Regions from separate parts of the Homo sapiens genome. Here region 2 is linked to region 1. The links come from fine-mapping of genetic effects on gene expression. A gene starts in region 1. The other region holds a variant in brackets. All regions are shown on one strand. Distances are between the middles of the regions. Region 1 holds the start of AARS2 (alanyl-tRNA synthetase 2, mitochondrial). Region 2 overlaps TMEM151B (transmembrane protein 151B).

What was found.
Region 2: its variant is fine-mapped to the expression of AARS2 in tibial nerve (GTEx, PIP 0.94). The same link has a PIP of 0.9 or more in prefrontal cortex.

The regions. Positions count from the first base shown.
Region 1 is chr6:44,307,967-44,318,862 of GRCh38, forward strand. AARS2 (alanyl-tRNA synthetase 2, mitochondrial) reads right to left here and starts at 5,381. Exons shown (of 22, transcript NM_020745.4): 1 at 5,115-5,381; 2 at 4,106-4,297; 3 at 3,424-3,569; 4 at 3,028-3,195; 5 at 2,333-2,477. The coding sequence starts at 5,357. LOC124901322 (a long non-coding RNA gene) reads left to right here. Exons shown (of 3, transcript XR_007059594.1): 3 at 6,185-6,581. RefSeq lists an enhancer at 5,126-5,685.
Region 2 is chr6:44,272,640-44,283,535 of GRCh38, forward strand. TMEM151B (transmembrane protein 151B) reads left to right here. Exons shown (of 3, transcript NM_001137560.2): 2 at 427-867; 3 at 2,764-6,805. The coding sequence ends at 3,888. It overlaps DRC5 (dynein regulatory complex subunit 5), which reads right to left. Exons shown (of 5, transcript NM_182539.4): 4 at 9,471-9,920; 5 at 6,095-7,751. The coding sequence ends at 7,542. Among named protein-coding and RNA genes, the nearest start is that of TMEM151B, 7.6 kb to the left of the region's middle. RefSeq lists an enhancer at 2,770-3,562. The variant G/C (reference allele first, on the strand shown) is at 4,865.

The DNA of each region.
Region 1 (10,896 bases):
AGTCATGCCATTCACTGTGTTGCTCAAGTCAATAGCCTGGGAGCCATCTTTGAATTCTTTTTCCCCTACCCGTCATGATCCATCAGTGGTTCCTTTTGCTCCTACCTCCATGACATCTCTCAAATCAATCTACTTGTCTCTACTTCCACTGCTATTATCCGAAGCATGCCCTGTGGTCCTTGCCTGGACCGATAATAGCCTCCCAACTGATTCCTAAGTTTCTGCTCTCATCTCCCTCCAGCTCATCCTCCACACAGCAACAGGAGTAGCCTTTTAAAAGTGTACATCAGGCTGGGCGCGGTGGCTCACACCTGTAATCTCAACACTTTGGGAGGCTGAGGCGGGTGGATCACCTGAGGTCAGGAGTTTGAGACCAGCCTGGCCAATCCTGGTGAAACCCCATCTGTACTAAAAATACAAAAATTAGTCAGGTGTGTTGGCGGGTGCCTGTAATCCCAGCTACTCTGGAGGCTGAGGCACGAGAATTGCTTGAGCCCCGGAGGCAGAGGTTGCAGTGAGCCGAGATCATGCCACTGCACTCCAGCCTGGACAACAGAGCAAGCAAGACTCTGTCTCAAAAAAAAAAAAGAAGGGTTCTCAGTGGGGAGTGTGGCATGATCTGATGTACACTTTTATTTATTTATTTTTTTTGAGATGAACTCTCACTCTGTTGCCCAGGTTAGAGTGCAGTAGCACGATCTCAGCTTACTGCAACCTCCACCTCCTGGGTTCAAGAGATTCTCCTGCCTCAGCCTCCCAAGTGGCTGGGACTACAGGTGTGTGCCACCATGCCTGGCTGATTTTTCTATTTTTTTAGTAGAGACAGGATTTTGCCATGTTGGCCAGGCTGGTCTCCAACTCCTGACCTCAAGCGATCCGCCCCCCTCTGCCTCCCCAAGTGCTGGGATTACAGGAGTGAGCCACCGTGCCCAGCCCTGAGAACTCTTCTCACCACTCTGAGAATCAAGGCCCCACTTTGGACTTTGAGGCCCACAAGACTGGATTCTGCCTTCTTCTCTGTGAGACTGTTCACAAAAATGGCCCTTTCCTAGGCATATGCCACTTTAAAATGGGACTTTACAGCTGTTTCCCATCAAGGGACAGAATCCATTTCTCCATCCCCTGAATCTCTGCTGGCTTTGTGACTTGCTTTGGCCCATAGAATACAGTGGAAACAACACTGTTCTGAGCCTATGTGTCTGCTCTCTGTCTTGGAACCTTGCTGAGCTGTGATGTGGACAAGCCCAGACTAGCCAGCTAGGTGATGACAGACACATGGTCCAGTCACCCCTACTGCCCCCAAACTGACAGCCAGCCAAGCCCCAGAGGAGCTGCGGCCTCTCAGCTCACCACAGATGGATGAATGAGCTCACACAAGACCAAAGAATGAGCCAGCTAAGCCCAGCCTAAACGCTAGCTCACAGACTCAGGGGGCAGATACATGGTTGTTGGTTAAGCCACAGAGCATTAGGGTGGTTATACAGCAAAAGCCAACTGACACATGTTCCTACTATATCCCATGGGATTCTCCTTTAGCTGGCTGGCCACCTTTTAGTTTTTGGCACATGTCAAGCCCTTTCTTGCGGGGCAAGGAGGGAGGGTATAAGCTACACACATGTGGAAATGCTCCAAAGCAGGGAGCTTGATTCACCTAGCTCCAAACCTCTCTCTTCCCCAAGCTTCTTCATCTCAGTAAACAGTCATGCCATTCACTGTGTTGCTCAAGCCAATAGCCTGGGAGCCATCTTTGATTTCTCTTTCCCCTCCCCATCTAATCCATCAGTACCAAGGCCCTTGGTACCTGCTGTCCCCTCTGCCTGGAAAGAACTTCCTGTAGCTGACTCCTCCTTTGGGGCTCAGCTCAAAGGTCATCTTCTTGGTGAGCCTTCCCCAAGCACCTTATCTAAGATTCCTCTGTACCCCTCCTTCTTCCTAGTTACTTTCACCCATGTTTACTGCCTGTTCACAATCTGTAAGCTATTACCTTGTTCTTTAACACATTTATTGATTGTCTATCTCTCATGCTAGCATATAATCTCCATGATCTCTTTCCTGCTTACTGCTGTGTCTTCTGTACCAAACACAAAGGATTTAACATAAAGTAAGCACTCAACACGTATTTTCTAAATAAATGAAAGAGGCAAGGAGTTAGGAGGAACATCAGGTAATAAGTAATGAATCCTAGTGTCTTGCTTGACGTCTTGGAATTCTTGGTTGGTTATTGTCCTCAGATGCTGAGAACACTCTGAGTTCTCAACAAAGATGGAATGCAATGGGGCTGAGGGCTGTGAAGAGCAGGTTAGAGGGCTTCTGGAAGGGAAGAGGCACTCACCTGCTGTATGGCGTTGAGCAGCGGGGAAAAGAGGTCAGTGTCATAGGTGGAGTGTTTGCCTTGCAGCACAGCCACCAGCCTTTCCAGGCCCATTCCTGTGTCCACATGCCGCTGGGGCAGGGGCTGCAGGCTTCCATCTGCCTCTCTGGCCAGGGAAGGTGTGCAAGGTGAGGCCCCACCCAGGATTACAGGTGTGAGACAGATGCCCAAGTGGAGTAGAGAAATGGGGGGGGGCCCAAGGGAGCTGACAGTGGGAGGAACCAGACAATCAGTATCTTCCCCTGCCACCCTGCAATAGCAGATGATGATGGCCTTGGGGTCCTGTCCTTCCTCATATAGGGCTATTTCCATTCTCACCCCTGCTTGGGCCCTTGCCTGGGCACCAGACATCCCATCTTGGGACAGAATTCTTTGCCCCTAGAAAGATATGTCAAGGCTAGAAGAAAATCTGAGATCATCAAGTTCAACTCGTTGATCATCAAGTTCAACAGAGAATAGCAGTGACTTGTTTAAGCTGTCACAGGCAAAGACTACAATTAAATCAGTTATTATCTATAAGGTGTTGAGAATTGTGCCTGACACACGGTAAGCACCGTTTACATGTTTGTTTTTATATGAAACAGATCAAAGTCTTCTAATTGCCACCTTTCCCACTTCTAGTCAGGGATTCTCATCCTGCTTCAGCACCCTATTACCTGTTGTGTTGCATGAAGACCAGGTTCCAAAGCTCTACCAGCTGGGGGGCTCCCACCCCACCAGCAAGGTCGTAGTGGATCTCAGTACAGGGCCCACAAGGGCCAGTATCCCCCATCTCCCAGAAGTTCTCTTGTGGTCCAAAGGAAAGCACACGGCTAGCAGGCACCCTGGGGAGAAAAGCAGGTGAGTGGTGGGAGACAGACAGACCCAGAAGCTGGGACTCTCTCTGCCATGAGAGCCCCTCCCTCAAGTCACAGCTCAGCAAGAGGAGGAACAGGGCTGACCCCACAATATCCTGGAATGAAATGCTAAGACTCTGAGGATTGGTGCTGGTAGTCTCCACTTTCCAGTCCTCCTGACCTCCAGGAATGAACATAAGAAGGGGGCTGACTTACCCTAAGCTCAGCCAGATGTCCCTGGTCTCCAGGTCTGGGTCCAGCCCTGCCTTGGGGTCACCATCAAAGTAGGAGATCCAGAGCCTTTCCTCAGGGATCCCATAGACCTGAGTCAGCAGTTCCCAGGCCATGTTACAAGCCTCCTCCTGCAGCAGAAACCAGCATGGGGTGGGGGGGGAAGACGGGTGAGAGGGAGACCCCACTGAAGTAATCAAGCCACATGAGTTTAGCTCCCGACTTAAGACAAAAGCATTTCTGCTGCCATCTTGTTCCCAGAATAAGCCATGAACCATTACTGCCTCTGAGTGTTTTCCTGCCCAGAAAGCTTCCCCCTTCTTCTAAGTCCTATCTTCTTTCAAGTCCCAGACCAAGTCCCACTTTCACATGAAATTCTCTGCCTACTCTAGCCTAGAGTGATCTTTAACTCCAGTAAGCACCTTAGCATTGCTGTTTGACCATTTATTCAAACAACAATTTTTGAGTGATCATTAGGCAGAAAGTACAGTCTCTGCCCTTCAGGGACTTACAATCCAATCAGGGAGGTGAGGTAATTCCTGTTACACCGGCTCAACTAGCACTTTGCCTCCACATCTGGTATGAGGCCCTGCCTAAGCAGACAGTACAATGGAAACAGGACAAATTGACTCCCTTCTTGGCTGATCACTGATCCCCAGAGACTCACCTTAAAATATTCACCCCCAAAGGCCCAATTGCCAAGCATTTCAAAGAAGGTATGATGGGAAAGGTCTCGACCCACATCTTCCAGGTCGTTATGGTGTCCTCCAGCTCTCACACATTTCTGGCTGTTGGCCACACGTCGGAAGCCTGCCATCTCGCTTCGTGGATCCACGGTGCCCAGAAAGATTGGCTTGAACTGGAAGCACATAGAGTGGGGAGGGGGAGAGGGATATCCAATTTCTCAGTAGAAGGGAAATGTGGGGAGTGAGGATAGGGATGGCTGTTCAGACCGAAGGCTGACTGTGCCCCTGAGAGTGCAGTGTAATCTTGGTCTATGAGGACAAACTGGGAGCCTCGGGACAGCCATCTCTGGTGTGTGGGGAGCAGAGAAGAGGTAAACAAATCATGAACCGGAGACCCTCTGCCTAGTAAAATAGGCAAGGTAAAAGAAGGAGGAATGTGTTGGGAGCTGGAAATGGGACGCTGAAAGGTGGCATCCTCCGTCTCAGCTTCTTCAACCACACCCAATAACTTCAGGGAACAAAACTGAGACTCATTTAGTAGGGAGCCCAGACGGCCTCTAAGGTTAACTTATGCCGCCCCTATTTTACAGATGAGGACAATGAAGTCTAGAAAAGATGAGTGGTTGATAAAAACCAAAACCTTAGAGAATAGTACTCAGCAAACAATAGGTGATCAATAAACATTTAATGAAAGCGTTATCTTTATTTAAATAACGAATAAATGAAATCAGACTTCTCCCTCGGGATTCCACTCCAGCCATTTCTGGACCTAATACTCAATCCCAATCCAGAAGTTCCCAGCTCAAGCCCTCCCCAAGCCCTCCCTATACTCTGAGCGCCGTACCCCCATCACTTTACCCAACCAAGCACCGCCCTCTTTCCCCAAAAGCTACGAACTCCGCCTCTCGCTTCTTTTGCCCAATCCTGCAGCGTCTTTCTCACCAGAAAACTCACGAACTCCGCTCCCTATCAGTATGGTTCGGCCCTCACCTGGTTCATGCCCGCATTGACAAAAAGCAAACTGGGGTCGCCGCGGGGCCGCACGGAAGCGGAGGGCACCAGCCGGTGGCCATGGCGGTCCCGAAAGAAGTTCAGAAAGGCGGCCCTCACGGCCGAGGCCTTGGCTGCAGGGGGCTCCGATGAGAGCGGCCGATGGCTGAGGCCCCGCCATGCGGGCGACCTTCGAATGGCCCGCCGCAGCCTCCGGGCTGCAGCTGCCACTGACGCTGCCATCGTAGCTCCGGGCAGTGACTTTACGTGGTCAAAGAGTGACGAGGGAAGGAAGCCAGGCGTTTCCTACAGCGGCCCCTGGCGGTAGGAGGACTCAGGGGGCGGCCTCTGCCGCCGGGGTGGAAGCGATCGATTGGGTCGCTGGCAGAGTCTAGCACAGCGCCCGGCACATAGTAGGCTCTTAATTCATTCGGCATTAAGCAAATATTCATTGAGAGCCTACTATGTGCTAGGCATTGTTTTGGGCTTTTAGGGTACAAAATTGACAAAATGCCCTGCCCACTGAAATCCGTATTCTAGCAGTAATTGCTGTTGTGCTTATTAGTTTTGCAAAGTTACAGATGGGGTTGCAATAAACAGGTGTGGATTCAACTTCGTGTGTGTGTGTGTGTGTGTGTGTGTGTGTTTTGTGTGTGTTTTTCCAGGCTGAGGGAAGAAGGCAGAGAGTGACAGGGGAGTATCAGCATTCATTCAAGAGGTATTCAACAAATATTTATTGAAGACCTAGTATGTGCTAGGCACTGTTCTAGGCATTTGCCAGTTTCCTTGGACCTTGGCATCAGACACGGCCATTTTTGCCCGTGAAGCAGGAGTCTATAGGAGAACACAGAAGCCAAACAGCATCTGCTATATTATTAATTGCCTAACATTTGGTCTTCTCATTTGCCTGGGGATCAGAGAGAATCCAGGTCGTCAAGGCAGGAGGAAGCTGTTGGCTAATAGCTGCAGAGATTTCACTCTCTAAGCCTTCTAATGCCCTAAGGTTTTGTGTGTTTTCGTTTAGGATAAGAGATATACCTGTTCTACCTCTCCCTTCTGTCTTTCCATAGTAACAGCTGTGACCCTGAAGCCAACAGGCCCTTGTGGATGCAATCAGGGTGCTCATGGGGCTTCTCATGATGCCCTTGGCTTGGGAAATTAAACAGATTGGGAAGACAGAAGAGAATCTGCCAAAGCTAAAACTCAATAGAGGTTCCAGAGCTGAGGTCAGTGTAATAACCGAGAAGGCCTTAGCCATCAGGGTGGTCTCTTTTAGCCACGATTCTGTGTGTGTTAAGTTATTTGGGGTCTTTGTATACATAGTTTCTCTGCGGAATCTACATTGGACTTGAATTTCTATAGTGATAGTAAATTCTTAACTTTGTGTTCTGACAGCACCTATAACTCCTATTCCATGATCCCCTTTTTCTCCCTTTGCCCACATAGATTAAAGGTGTTGTTTTGAAAGTGTGTTTGGCCTGTTTTGGTTTTTCCAGTGTTTCTGGAACAGAAAGCTAAAGCCAGCTGGGGATTTCTGTGTGATTAATGACTTTTTTATTTTTTTGAGATGGGGTTTCACTCTTGTTGTGCTGGCGTGCAATAGCACAATCTCGGCTCTCTGCAACCTCTGTCTCCCGGGTTCAAGCAATTATCCTGCCTTAGCCTCCTGAGTAGCTGGGATTACAGGCATGCATCACCACGCCCGGCTAATTTTGTATTTTTAGTAGAGATGGGGTTTCTCCATGTTGGTCAGGCTGGTCTTGAACTCCCGACCTCAGCTGACCTGCCTACCTCAGCCTTCCGAAGTGCTGGGATTACAGGCATGCACCACTGCGCCCAGCTGAGATTGATGATCTTTAGACAAGACTGTGAAATTATTTCCCAAACTGAGATGGGAGTGTTTTGCCATACAAACCTGGCAGGGCCTCTACTCAGTACTGACATCAACTTTTTTTTTTTCAGATTTTGCCCAGAAAGTCATTGTGTTACATTAGAAACTCCAAACATGGATCTAGTGTGGAGCCATATAATTTTTTTAAAACAGCTTTATTGAAATATAATTTACATGCTATACAATTCGCCCATTTAAATAAAGTATACAGTTCAATGCCTTTTAGTATATTTACATAGAGTTGCCCATCCATCACCACAATCACTTTTAGAACATTTTCATTACTTCCAAATAAAACCCCAAATCCTTTAGCCATTAACCCCCAATCGTCTCATCCTTCCTAGCCCTTGGCAACCACTAATCTACCTTCTGTCTCTACAGACTTGTATATTCTGGACATTTCATGTAAATGGAATCATGTAATATGTGGTTCTTTGTAACTGGCTTCTTTCACATAAAATAATATTTTCAAGGTTCATCCATGTTGTAGCATGTACCATGGATTTTTAGAAAAATGTTTTTAGTTGTTTTCTGTTTGAAGTAGGTTTTTCTCTCATCTAATTTTGTCTTTGCCACTAAAAATGATAATTTTCTTTTCTTTAAATGTGGTGCTCTTTGGTGAATCATTAGGTTCTTTTTAATATTTCCCAGTGAAGCAAAGCGGTTCATCTAGGATTGGGACGTGTCTGTTCTGGTTTGCAGCTGTCATCTGATGAGGAAGTTAAATTGAAGGACTGCAGTTTCCCAAGATAGATGGAGGTGGAGAAAACTCATCAGACAGGGAAGTTACCAATCCTGGGAACTTCTCTGAAGGGTACTGATCCACTGTCTTAGTATTTATGGGAATTTCATTTTGAGGTTTAACATGCAAATGGGGTCTGCTTTTTGCGAGTTACTCAGCTGGGTTTTGTGAGCAACATTTGGGGTGCTCCTTTCATTGTTTAAGACAGTGGTGCTTTATCTTCCCTGGAGGTGGGATTTACCCTTACGTTGCCATTCGACCTACTTATCTTGGTAGGTTCAAGGCATCCAGCCATTCTTTGTGCTCTCCCTTTCACCTTGTTTAAAAGATGTAACACTCTTATTCTAGGAGTAGAAAGTGTCCTTTCTGATTTCCCGATTGGCTTTGAGAGCAGGACCCCAAGATCAGTGAGACATTCTGTCCTGGATTGATGGTCAGAGAAGACAAAGGGAATTTTCACTCTTACTAAGCATGGGGAACTCAACTTTGGGAATTTCCTCTTATAAATCATAAAAACAGTCTTTTAGCGTCTAGGTTAAAAAGTCAGCCTACGACAGGTGTTTCTGATTTGATGTGTTTATTTATGGCATTGGCTTATCTGGATTGTGAAAGCAACCAACACTTGCCAAACATTAATATGCATATGGATCTCCTGCGATCTTGTTACATATGCAGACTATGATCCAGTAGGTCTGGAGTAGGTGAAATTCTGCATTTCTAGCAGGCTCCCGGTGATGCTGCTGCTGCTGCTAGTCTACTAGACCATACCTTGAGTGACAAGGGTGTAGTAAAGGACTTGTGAGGGGAGTCTGGACACAGGCTTTAGGAAACGTTCTTTTGCCTGGTCCTGGGGCCTAAGACTCAGGTGCCCTTAGGTTCTCCCTTTCTCCTGGGAGGGGTGCTCACCCAGAGTAGGTGGGTGTAGCTGGGAGCTCATCGTGCGCAAGAGCGCTCGCCCCCTTCCTTCCCCCAGCTTCTTAGGGAAGTGAGGGTGGTGATTGCGTCCGCCTGTGGCTTAGAGCCGTGGAGGTTAATGTGGACCAGGGTGGAAGGGGAGCGGTTACCATGGGAATCTGGCAAAGTCATCAGGGCACGCCGATGGCTGGTGGAGCCCCCGGATCAGGAATTCAAGTATTGGTGGACCCTTGAGGGCCTCAATTCTAGAGGTTTATCCTCATGCATTAAAAAAATACTGTAGTTACATTTTATTTATTTTTATTTTATTTTTATTATTTTTGAAAGAGATAGGGTTTTGCTATGTTGCCCAGGCTAGTTTTGAACTCCTGGTGTCAAGCATTCCTCATGCCTCGGTCTCCAAGATAAACATTTTAACTGGTTATAGAAATACCTACATAAGAAAGAAGTAGACATAGGAGACTCCATTTTGTTCTGTACTAAGAAAATTTCTTCTGCCTTGGGATGCTGTTAATCTAGAACCTTGCCCCCAACCCCGTGCTCTCTGAAACAGGGTTAAATGGATTAAGGGCGGTGCAAGATGTGCTTTGTTAAACAGATGCTTGAAGGCAGCATGCTGGTTAAGAGTCATCACCACACCCTAATCTCAAGTACCCAGGGACACAAACACTGCAGAAGGCCGCAGGGACCTCTGCCTAGGAAAACCGGAGACCTTTGTTCACGTGTTTATCTGCTGACCTTCTCTCCACTATTATCCTATGACCCTGCCACATCCCCCTCTCCGAGAAACACCCAAGAATGATCAATAAATACTAAAAAAAGAAATACCTACATAACAACTTCGATTTTGCCTCTTGGCCTGGAAAGCCTAAAATATTTAATACGTGGCTTTTCAAAAAAAGTTTGCCAAACACTGCAATAGAGATTTTTTAAAAATCACACCATAAAACGTAGATGCAGAAAATCAACCAAAACAAATGTTGACTTGTTTCAATGTTGTTGATTCAAAGGCAGACATCTTTGTATCCACTACCCAGGTCTTGAAATAGAACTTTGCAGCCACCCCAGGGCCCCTCCATGGATTCTGCCCTGCCCCCAACCAGCTTCCTTCTCCCAAAGGTGACCATTACCCTGACTTTCATAGTAATCACTGCATTTTTTTTTTTTTGAAACAGAGTTTCAGTCTCGTTGCCCAGGCTGGAGTGCAATGGTACAATCTCGGCTCACTGCAACCTCCACCTCCCAGGTTCAAGCAATTCTCCTGCATCAGCCTCCTGAGTAGCTGAGATTACAGGCACCCACCACCACGCTTGGCTAATTTTTGTATTTTTAGTAGAGATGGGGTTTCACCATGTTGGCGAGGCTGGTCTTGAACTCCTGACCTCAGGTGATCCACCCACCTCAGCCTCCCAAAGTGCTGGGATTACAGGTGTGAGCCACCGAGTTCAGCCTGCATTGCATTTCTTTACAGTTTATCACCCAAATGTACATCCTTAGATGTTATAGTCTTGCACGTTTTTTAAAAAAGCGTATCGACTTGATATTTTAAGTCTTTTTATCAATAGGTTCCATCTCCATCCTTTTCCTTACAGTGTATCTACTGCTTAGCTACGGAGATTTGATCTGTGGTTTCCCACAGTCTAAGTTTTTGCTGACTCCATATTCGACATTCAACTCACATTCAACATGTTCCTCTGTCTTCTCTATTTCATGCAAATTAGCACCTGGATGTGGAGATTTGATTAGACACAATTTTGAATCTCTTTGGCAAGACCATAGATACCCCTTCACCAGAGGGTACATCAATGTATGGTTGTCTGTATTTCTGTGATCCTAGCAGCCCCGATAACATAATGCCTACATCTGTTAACGCACTGGAAGGTGCAACATGGTGATATGTTAATTCTGTCATCTCTTTTTCGTTTATTAATCGGAGTCTTTTTATGAAGAGATGCTTCCCCTAATCAATTATTTGTTAATCAGTGGTATAGTTAATGTAGAAAAGGCTACATGCTTGATTTTGCCCCCTTCAGTTATCAGTGTTCAAGATAATGGATTTGTTTCTATCACTCTCCAAAAGTGAGCTATTATTGTATTTTCAGCATCATTGTGAAGTCATGGATTTCAGCCTATTTGATGGTTCCAGTCCATTGCAATTACAGTGCTGTGTCCATTAAAGCTCAAAGTGTCCCATCTTTGGTTAGTGGGAATCTTTTTGATTTGCCTTCTGAGTC
Region 2 (10,896 bases), 35 kb before region 1:
CGCTGATGCCTGTCTGTCTGTCCTCCCCTGTCTTCCCTGTCCACATCTTCTGTTTCATTGCCATTTTTGTGTTTGTCTTCGGATGCTCTCTGGGTACCATCCTATCCATCTGTGTTTGCTGCCTGGGCCTCTATCTCTGGCTCTGATCCTTCTCTGCCTCTTGGGGTGTCTCTCTCTGCACTCTCCTGTACTGGCATTCCGGTCCCCTTTCCTGTCCTCTGGCTTGCTCTGTGTCACTTCTGTTTCTACCTCTGGCCCCTGGCTCCCATCTTGGTCTCACCTTTTCTCTCCATATCCCTGTTTCTCTCTGCCTGTTATCTCTGGTGCTGGCCTCTGCCCCTCCATCCCCGTATCCATCTCTGTGCTGGGTCCTGCCTGCTCTCACTTCCCACTCATCTTGGCCCCTCTCCCTGCCCACCTGAGCAGCAGCGTCCCATCCAGCCCTCTTTCACCAAGTCCCTCTGCCGTGAGTCCCACTGGAAGTGCCTCCTGCTCTCGCTGCTCATGTACGGCTGCCTGGGGGCAGTGGCCTGGTGCCACGTCACCACAGTGACGCGCCTCACCTTCAGCAGCGCCTACCAGGGCAACAGCCTCATGTACCATGACAGCCCCTGCTCCAACGGCTATGTCTACATCCCCCTGGCCTTCCTGCTCATGTTGTACGCCGTCTACCTGGTGGAGTGTTGGCACTGCCAAGCCCGCCATGAGCTGCAGCACCGTGTTGATGTGAGCAGTGTGCGGGAACGTGTGGGCCGCATGCAGCAAGCCACGCCCTGCATCTGGTGGAAGGCCATCAGCTACCACTATGTCCGCCGCACCCGCCAGGTCACCAGATACCGCAATGGAGACGCCTATACCACCACCCAGGTGAGGAGCTGGTGGGGAGTGCAGGACATTCAACATGGGAGGTGGCACTTACGTGCTGCCTCACTCCCTCCCCACCTCCCTGGGGGGAAGGTGGGAGGAGCAAAAGGCAGCAGTGAGCTCCCATGAGCATTGCAACAGCAGGGCAATAGCAACAACCATAATCATAACAGCAAAAACCGACCAGGAGCCAGGCTCTGCTCTAAGTATTTTACACACATCAAATCATTTATTTAACCCTCATAACAACCCTATGATGTAGGCAGGTATTCCCATTTTGCAGATGAGGAAACTGAGGCCTGGAGAGTTTAAGTAATGTGTCTAAGGTCAAATAGGCAGTATGTGGTGGAGATGAGACTTGAACTCAATCAATCTGGCTCCAGGATCTCTATACTGTTTAGTGCTTAATGGATCTACTTAGTGATTAATGGCAGAGTGTGGTGGCTCAGGCCTGTAACCTCAGCACTTTGGTGAGGCAGAAGGATCTCTTGAGCCAGGAGTTTGAGACCAGCCCACCCGGCAGCAACATAGTAAGACCCCATCTCTATAAATAATAAAAAGAAGTAGCTGGTGTGGTGGTATGCACCTGTAGTCCCGGCTACTCAGGAAACTGAGGTGGGAGAATCGCTTGAGCCTGGGCAGTTGAGGCTGTAGTGAGCTGTGATTGCCACAGTGCAAGACCCCATCTCAAAAAAAAAAATAAAAATAAAAATAGTGCTTAATGGCTGGAGATGGCTTCACATGCCCAGTATCATAGCATGCTCTTACCTGTTCAGTGAGGTGACTGCTACTGAGTTCTTTCACAGGTATGGACACCTAAACTCAGTGACTTGTCCAAAGTCTGCTGCTCTTAAGTGGTAGTGCTAGGCTCAATCCCAGCTTCCTGGATGTCAAGTTCAAGGGTCTAAGAGGAGGTGGGCGTAGGAAGTCTCACTGAGGGTGGGCAGGTCAATCAGCACTTTGTGGACTCGCCAGGATGAGACATATTGGGGTCCTGGAGGAGACGTTCCCAGATGCAGGCCATCTGTCTCAGTATAAGGATCAATAGACAGAAGCCTGGGGCGGGTGAGAAGCAGGAAGGAGGCTGATGATAGCTACAGCGTGAACAGGCAGACTAGAGATAGAGGGGTTCTTTAGGGAGTGCTTCTGGGGAACCCATTGGGAAACACAATTGTAAAAGGGAAGAAAGAAGAAGAGGAGGCTGTTTGTGGTGATGTGGGGGCACTTTGGAAAACAGAGGCAGTGGCAAATGGATCAGGCAGGCCAGAGGGGCAGTTCATGGCCAGGGCCTGACCCCTAGAGGAAGCAGGGCTTAGTTAAAATTTAAATGCGCGGCCGGGGGCGGTGGCTCATGCCTGTAGTCCCAGCACTTTGGGAGGCCGAGGCGGGTGGATCACGAGGTCAAGAGATCGAGACCATTCTGGCCAACATAGTGAAACCCCGTCTCTACTAAAAACACAAAAAATTAGCCTGGCGTGGTAGTGGGCGCCTGTAGTCCCAGCTACTCGGGAGGCTGAGGCGGGAGCATGGCATGAACCCGGGAGGCGGAGCTTGCAGTGAGCCGAGATGGCGCCACTGCACTCCAGCCTGGGCGACAGAGCCAGACTCCATCTCAAAAAAAAAAAAAAAAAAAGAAAAAGAAAAAGAAAAAAAATTTAAATGCGCACAGGTAGGGCTGGTTCTAGTCCGGTCATCACGTCTGATTACACAGAGGGCGTCAGTTGCCCTGTAAGTCAGACGGAAAGATCCTAACCAGCTCCAGCCGGCACCTAAACCAAGACAGACTTAGGGTCCGACCAGGCAACCAGAGCACAGATGGGGCGGGAAAGGGTGAGTGGGCAGAAGCGGGCACCAATGACGGGCTCCCCGCGACCCCGCCGCCTGCCCCCCGCGCCGCAGGTCTACCACGAACGCGTCAACACGCACGTGGCGGAGGCTGAGTTCGACTACGCGCGCTGCGGCGTTCGCGACGTGTCCAAGACGCTGGTGGGGCTGGAGGGCGCGCCGGCCACGCGGCTGCGCTTCACCAAGTGCTTCAGTTTCGCCAGCGTGGAGGCCGAGAACGCGTACCTGTGCCAGCGCGCGCGCTTCTTCGCAGAGAACGAGGGCCTAGACGACTACATGGAGGCACGCGAGGGCATGCACCTCAAGAACGTGGACTTCCGTGAGTTCATGGTGGCCTTCCCGGACCCGGCCCGGCCGCCCTGGTACGCCTGCTCGTCGGCCTTCTGGGCCGCGGCGCTGCTCACGCTGTCGTGGCCGCTGCGAGTGCTGGCCGAGTACCGCACGGCCTACGCGCACTACCACGTGGAGAAGCTATTTGGCCTGGAGGGCCCGGGCTCGGCCAGCAGCGCAGGCGGTGGCCTCAGCCCCAGCGATGAGCTGCTGCCCCCGCTCACCCACCGCCTGCCGCGGGTCAACACAGTAGACAGCACGGAGCTCGAGTGGCACATCCGCTCCAACCAGCAGCTGGTGCCCAGCTACTCTGAGGCGGTGCTCATGGACCTGGCGGGGCTCGGGACGCGCTGCGGCGGGGCAGGCGGCGGCTACGCGCCCTCGTGCCGCTACGGTGGGGTAGGCGGCCCGGGCGCGGCGGGCGTGGCTCCCTACCGGCGCAGCTGCGAGCACTGCCAGCGCGCCGTCAGCAGCTCGTCTATCTTCTCGCGCAGCGCCCTAAGCATCTGCGCCAGCCCGCGGGCCGGCCCGGGGCCCGGTGGGGGCGCGGGCTGCGGGGGCAGCCGCTTCTCGCTGGGCCGTCTCTACGGCTCCCGGCGCAGCTGCCTGTGGCGCAGCCGCAGCGGGAGCGTCAACGAGGCCAGCTGCCCCACGGAGCAGACGCGGCTGTCCAGCCAGGCCAGCATGGGGGACGACGAGGACGACGACGAGGAGGAGGCCGGGCCGCCGCCGCCCTACCACGACGCCCTCTACTTTCCGGTCCTCATCGTCCACCGGCAGGAGGGGTGTCTGGGCCACAGCCACCGGCCGCTGCACCGCCACGGCTCCTGCGTAGAGACCTCACTGTGACCTCCGGCCCCGGAGTGGCCCGCGCCGTCCTCCCGCCTGCCCCTCGCCGGACTGTGCTCCCTCTGCGACGCAGGGCGAGTCACCACGGTGACTGAGGCCGCGCGGGGGGCAGGGAAAGGGAGGTGAGGGCCGCAAGACAGGCCCGGATGGGGCCGAGACCCCCGCTGTCCCTGTACATAAAGAGACCGATGGGTGGGAGGGGGTCGGCTGCTCCCCGAGATCCCCCTGGCAGAGTCATTCTTCCAGCCCCAACCCTGAGTTCCTAAAGGGACACCTCCCTCCTGTCCAGCCCTTCAACAGATCTTCTGTTAGATGACAACCGTGCCGTGGGCCCCGCGTTGGGCCTTGTCTGAAGGGAGAGGCCCTGGCATGCGGATGGGAGATTTAGAGGCTGTGGAGAAGGGAACTTGGGGCTTTCCTTCCTTCGTGGCCTCACTCCCCTGGGGCCTCTCTCTATGGAGGGGGCAATGGTTTGGTGACCAGCAGGCTGGATTCCAACTAGCTAATGCATTCAGCAGGTCTGAGGCTGGGGCCAGGTGTCAGCCCTAGGCCTCCATCCAACACCGTGGAAATGTTGCTGCCCTCTTCTTGGCGCTGACCCCAAGATTGGGGTTTCCTTTCTGCCGCTCCCTCCACTGTTGTTTATCTAACTGGGCCCCCACTCCAGGTCCAGAGGGACTGTGCTCACTGCACAGACATCACTCACCTTCCGCTCCCCAGTCCTGCAGAGCTGTTGCCAGGGTGCAGTGGGGAGGGGAGTGAAATGTGGAGGACTGTGTACCTCAGTCCTCTCTCTAAACTCCTCAGCCTCCCAACAGGGGCCTCCTCACCTGGGTTCTGAGTGTATACCCCTTTTAGAGAGTGAGATGCCACCCGGGCAGCACTCGTTAAAGCTGGCCAGCACGAGTGACTAAGGGGAGAGAGCATGACATAGACCTGGGTGGCAACGGGGACCTCTGGAAGCAGGTGGGAGTAA[G/C]AGAGGAGAGGGCAGTGGAGGGTAGAGGAAAAGGACCTCCAGAGGTGGGGTGTCTGTGGGGGCGGCCTTTGCCTCCCTAAACCTGTGCGGAGGAGTGGAGTGTGCTTGTCGCTCAAACACATCTCTGGGGGACTGAGGACGTTGTCACAAGCCCCAACTGGAGAAATAATTCCAATGGCAGGGTCAGAGGCAAGCATTCTCTAAATCTTGCCCAACCCTTCCATCCTTCCCTATCCTATGAGCTGAAGCCCTGCTGTGTGTCGCAGGGTCTTCAAAGGGGCATCCTGCCACCACCCCAGGGCGCTGGCCCCACGTCCTGTTCCCCTAAAGCTCTGACACCGCCTTCTCTCCGTGTGCTCCCCCCACCACCTCCACCCTGATGTGCTTCAGTGTGCATGTCTGTGAACAGCCCTCCTGCCCTGCCAACTCCCCTGGCTAAAGTCTCCCCAGCAGATTTAGCACCCAGGGATTGAGCTCACATTTCAGGCTAGAGAGGATAACCCTTGGGCCACCCACATCTCTCACCCCTGATGCTTCTTACTTCGCCTGAGCCATCAGAACTCCTCCTTACCCTCCTTCAGCCCCTCTCATCTTCCTTCAGCCCAGCCAGGCCTGCACCACCAACTGTGTGGCCTCCACCTATGCAACATCGCCTCTGGCTCCCCTTCCCTTCTTCCTAGCGGGGAGTGCGAGGGGCCCAAATTGTGGGGATACCATGGCCCATGGCTTCTAAAGGGTTTAGCTTTACTTTCAGGTAGAGATGGCTGAGTGAGGAGGGAGAAGAGGCTAGAGAGAGGGAGGCTTGGGCAGGGGAAACAGCTGCCCACCAGGTTTTCCTGGACAGCAGTGCCCACCTGCCTACTAGCACTGAACCTGCCTGGACCCTGAGTCTGTGCTCCTTGGGGGCCTGGCGTTTGGAGCACCCTTCTTTCCTCTGAATGGACATCTGTGAGGTACAGGTGGTGAGCTGCAGCCTCAGGCTCCATTTCTTAGCCAGCTGGCACCTGGATGTCATGCTTTGTGTGGGGACAGCCTGGCCACCTCAGGGCTCCAAGGAAGGAGGAACGTGGCTCCTCCTCCCTCAGGCCTGTTCCTGAGACAGAGCCTGGTCTCACAAGAGGGGAAGGGGGACCTCTATTATTATTTTTGCCTGTATTGACCATTTCTGCCTAGGTCGTCTCAGACAGCCTCATCTCCCACACATGCACAGACTTAGAGAGAAACCAATTCTTTGGTCTATTTTCTTGGTAGCTTTACTGATTGCCAGGGAAAATGAAAACCAGAAAATTAATTAATCTCTAAAATTAAACTTTACACTGAATGTTCTTGTTTCTCTAATTAGAACTTCTGCTAGCAGCTGTGGCTATACACACACACACACACACACACACCCTCACACCTACACGTTTGCACTCCGGAACTGTCAGAGGGTGTCAGGCACAGACAGACTCTAGGTTGCCTAGACAGGCACACACATGCAGTCACTCCCAAGCCCCCTTTGGTGCTCTGCTCAGCGCCTGCTTAGCGGAAGGAGTCCCTGGAGAGCAGGCACTCCTGGACTGGGGTTGTAGCCCATGACCTGCCCTTTGGGGACACAGTTCTGGAGGCTCTGGGCCAATGAATCAGCCCAAGGAGGATGGGCAATGGCGCTCAGCCTGAATCAGTCAGCTAGGTCTCTTGTGGCCCTGGGGGCTGATGTGATTCCTGTAGGTGTGGCCCCAGGGTGGACAGCTACAGAGTGATGGGGGACTCATGTAGGGCACCTGGAAGGCTCCATGTGTCCTGGGGACAAGGGCTTGTGGGGTGGGCTGGGCCTGGCTGGGGAGAAGACAGGTCTCTGTCAATTGGGTGCATCACACTGTGGCCTTTTTGTCGTGGATTTAAGCGCAAAGATTGTACAAATCAAACTGGTGGATAATAAAGTCGTGGATGACTCACTGACTTCCTGTCCCAGTGTGGCACTTCTTTCCCTCCCTCCCAGGGAAGCTCTCTGGGGTGGGTGGCAGGGATTGTGTCATCCTTCCCTGGAAGTTGTCATCTACAGTTGCCTCCCCAGAGGAGTCCACTGGGTCTGAGCCCCTGGTGTCAGCTCATTGTCCCCTTCCCAGGTTGGGAGTTGGGGAACTAGGGGATGGCGTGGCCTGTAGAACTGGATCACTTAAAGCAGAGTCAAGCAACAGGGAAATGCATCTACAGGGATGAGGGTGGCAGAGAGAGCCAGGCATAGCCCTGCTGTAGCCAGAGGGTGTGTGTGTGTGTGTGTGTGTGTGTGTGTGTGTGTGTGTGTGTGTGTTTGAAGATCAAGGATCTGTTTGGTAGAGAAGAAAATGGTGGGGAGTCAGGGAGGCAGGCAGCCCCAACGGGAGAATCTGGCAGGCACAGTCCCTCAGACACCTCTCTGACTTCCCTGTTCCTGAAAGAAGTTGGTCATTTGTGGGTGTCCAGTAATATCCTTTCCCTGGGCACAAAGGCTGGGTCCCTACTGCATACCCTTTCTTCCCCCATGCCAGGCTCCCTTCCCTGCCTCATGTCTCCATCCATACAACCCTTGATCACTCCAAGGTTATTCACAGTCCCCCTCCCCGCTCCCTCTGAACCAGTGTGATACTCTGCAGCAGGCATGGCAGGGGTATGAAATGAGGGATGGGGCTGGGGCCATGATCCAAGTCAGGTCATTTTATCCCACAGAGTTCTCAGGGCCATTGGCAGTTATGGTTGACATGAAGTGGCTGGGATTCAGGGCCCGCTGGCGGGCTGCTTCTCGGTTTGCGTAGAGGGCCTGGCCAATGAGGTACTCGCTTTCCTGGGCCACATCTGACAGGCGCAAGTCAAATTCCAGGAGGGTCTTGTTGTCTGACATGCCTTCCAGGAGCTGCTTCCCACCGTCCTGGGAGAAGGGTGCAAAGGAAGGGGTCATTTACATCACTACCCAGGATCTGACACACATACTACACATTTTCAGGTAGATGTGACTAAAACAAAAGTTTCACAAAACAATACTTAACCTATTTGTGACGCATGATGACATATTCTGTTCTTTTCCATTTGAAAAATGGTAGCCAATACCCACTAAATTGACATCTCAACCCTACTAGTTTGAAAAACATGAATCTCTGGCAATGAAGATAATTCCATTCCTTTGGTTCAGCCATGGGCATGTGGGACAAATCTAATGAGATGTGAGGGGGAAGCTGAGAGAGGGTGGCTTCTGGGAAGCTTCTCCTCATTCCAAAAAGAGAAGAAAAGGGAGCAGGTGTTCTCCCGGTTTCTGCCTCTGGGCATGTCCCTGTATGAGATGTCAGAACTGTGGCAGCCATCTTGGGACTGACAGAAGCACTAGCGAGGCATTGGCCATGAGACTGGGGTGGGCAGAGCAGAGGGTAGCACTGAACCCAGGGGTTTACCGACCCTACAACCCTCTAATTCTGGTTGTGGGAGACACTGAATATTCCTCCTGCTTAAGCCATTTCTGATTAAGCTTTTTATTACTTGCAGTCAACAGCACCCCCTCTAGAAACTGTGTGTGTGTGTGTGTGCGCGCATGCACGTGTGTGTGCGTGTATGTGCCTGTGTAGGTGAGCAAGGCTGTTCTCATGGGGAGGTTTAGTAGAGGGTTCAGTGACCTAATGGAGGGCCCTGCTCAATGGTCATCACAGCTCCAACCCCTGCTGGGCTGGGTGGGCTAGCCCCAATGTGAAAGAATTTCACGTTGGGAGGCAGAATGCTACCATTCTGTGGTTGTGACCCAGTAGTGTGTTGCAAAGTCAATTTAATGGGTCACAGAAGCATTTTAAAAAATACAATAGAATGGAATGTAAAGGAAAATATCAGCATATATCACGTCATAAATTTCAATATTATGTTTATGTCAGTGTTCATGTAAATTGCATTTTTTTTTTGAGACGGAGTCTCGCACTGTCACCCAGGCTGGAGTGCAGGGGCACGATCTCAGCTCACTGCAATCTCCGCCTCCTGGGTTCAAGCAATTCTCCTGCCTCAGGCTCCCAAGTAGCTGGGGTTACAGGTGCATGCCACCACATTGGGCTGATTTTTGTATTTTTAGTAGATATGGGGTTTCACCATGTTGGCCAGACTGGTCTCGAACTCCTGGCCTCAGGTGATCTACCCACCTCAGCCTCCCAAAGTGCTGGGATTACAGGCGTGAGCCACTGTGCCTGGTCGTAAATTGCATTTCTTACTCTCAGACTTGGTTAAGAAAGTTTTAGAGACACAGTCTATTAGAAAGGACTCAGGCTTTCAATCAATCTTGGGTTTGAATCGTAGCCTTGCCACTTGCTACTGACTTGATGCCCTTGGGCAACTCACTATCCTCTCTGAAACTTAGTTTTCCATCTAGAAAGTAGGGTTAAATATACTTAGTTATATACTTAAATATATTTAGGGTTAAATATGCTTAGGGTTAATATACAGTTACTTAGGTAACTGTAAGGATTAAAGGAAAAATAATCATTGGGATACACAGTATGTGTGCATACTTGATGCAGTATGTAGTATGTAAACTCTGTGATCTTCACAATTATCCCACAAGTACCCCTGGCAGTTGGATTCCACACCCACCCTCACAAGCCCAGAATAGGTGGCTCACCAGCCCGATGTGGTTGCAGGACAGGTTGATGCTGGTGAGTGTGGTGTTGATGGCGAGCACCTGTGACAGGAGTGTGGCGGTGGGCTCAGACAGCTCATTGCCACCGAGGTGCAGCGTGGTGAGGCACTTGTTGGTCTGCAAGGCATGGGCAAGAGCCTGGCCACCCTCATCCTCGATGCAGTTGAGACGTAGGTTGAGGGAAATGAGGTTGGTGTTGTGTGCCAGAGCGTGAGCCAGGGACTGGGCACCGGGTGCACGCACCTGGTTGTTAGCCAGGTTGAGCACACGCAGGCGGCTGTGGCTCAGCAGCTTGGCAGCACCTCGTGCACCACGGTCTCCAATGAGGTTTTGTGACAAGTCCAGCTCCTCGAGGACTGGGTGGTCCAGAAGGCTTCGAATTATGATGCGTGCCTTGTCATCATCCACCTTGCTTCGGGTCAGCTTGAAGATCTGTGGGCAGGCAGAGGGTCTACAGCAACTGCCAGCCAGGGATAATCAGCCTGCCCACCTAGATCTTTGGCAAACTTGGCTCACCTAGTGTTGGCCACCTGGCTGGGTCTTGGAGGGGGCCAGGCCTACCAGCATGGCAGAGTAGTGTAGAATTGGTGGCAGGTAGCAGGGAGGAAAGATCACTGTTTATTGAGCAATTACTACATGCTGGGTATGCTGCTTGGGTCTTCCTTTTTTATCTTTTTTTTTTTTTTTTTTTTTGAGACGGAGTCTCGCTCTGTCACCCAGGCTGGAGTGCAGTGGCGTGATCTTGGCTCACTGCAAGGTCCACCTTCCGGATTCACACCATTCTCCTGCCTCAGCCTCCTGAGTAGCTGAGACTACAAGTGCCCGCCACCACGCCCTGCTAATTTTTTGTATTTTTAGTAGAGACAGGGTTTTACCGTGTTAGCCAGGATGGTCTTGATCTCCTGACCTCGTGATCCACCCGCCTCAGCCTCCCAAAGTGCTGGGAATACAGGCGTGAGCCACCGCGCCCGGCCGCTTGGGTCTTTCACAACCATTATCTCTAACCTTCAGCATCTCGATGAAGAAGAGAAAGTTCTCTCCATTTTACAGACAGAAAATGGAGGCTTACATTATTTCCCCAGAGTAATGCAGTGATTGAAGCAGTTGAGACAGGTTTGGAATCCAAGCCTGCCTGAGGCCTCAGCCCCTCACTGCATCCTCCTCTCCCAGCCAAGATCCACCAGGGCAAGGAGAGGACCTCTTTGAAGGAGGTTGCCAGGGCAAGAACCAGGGAGACAGTGGGGAGGTGGAGAAGCAGGAAAAGGATGAGATAAAGGAATGAAGGAAAGGGGATGGGGCTGGCAGTATGAATATTGTCCATGGGAACCTCTCCCCCTCACCTTCCCGCTGGCTTGTCCCACTCCTCTCTCTCCCTTGAGACCTCTGAGTGTCTGGCCTCTCTCTCTCT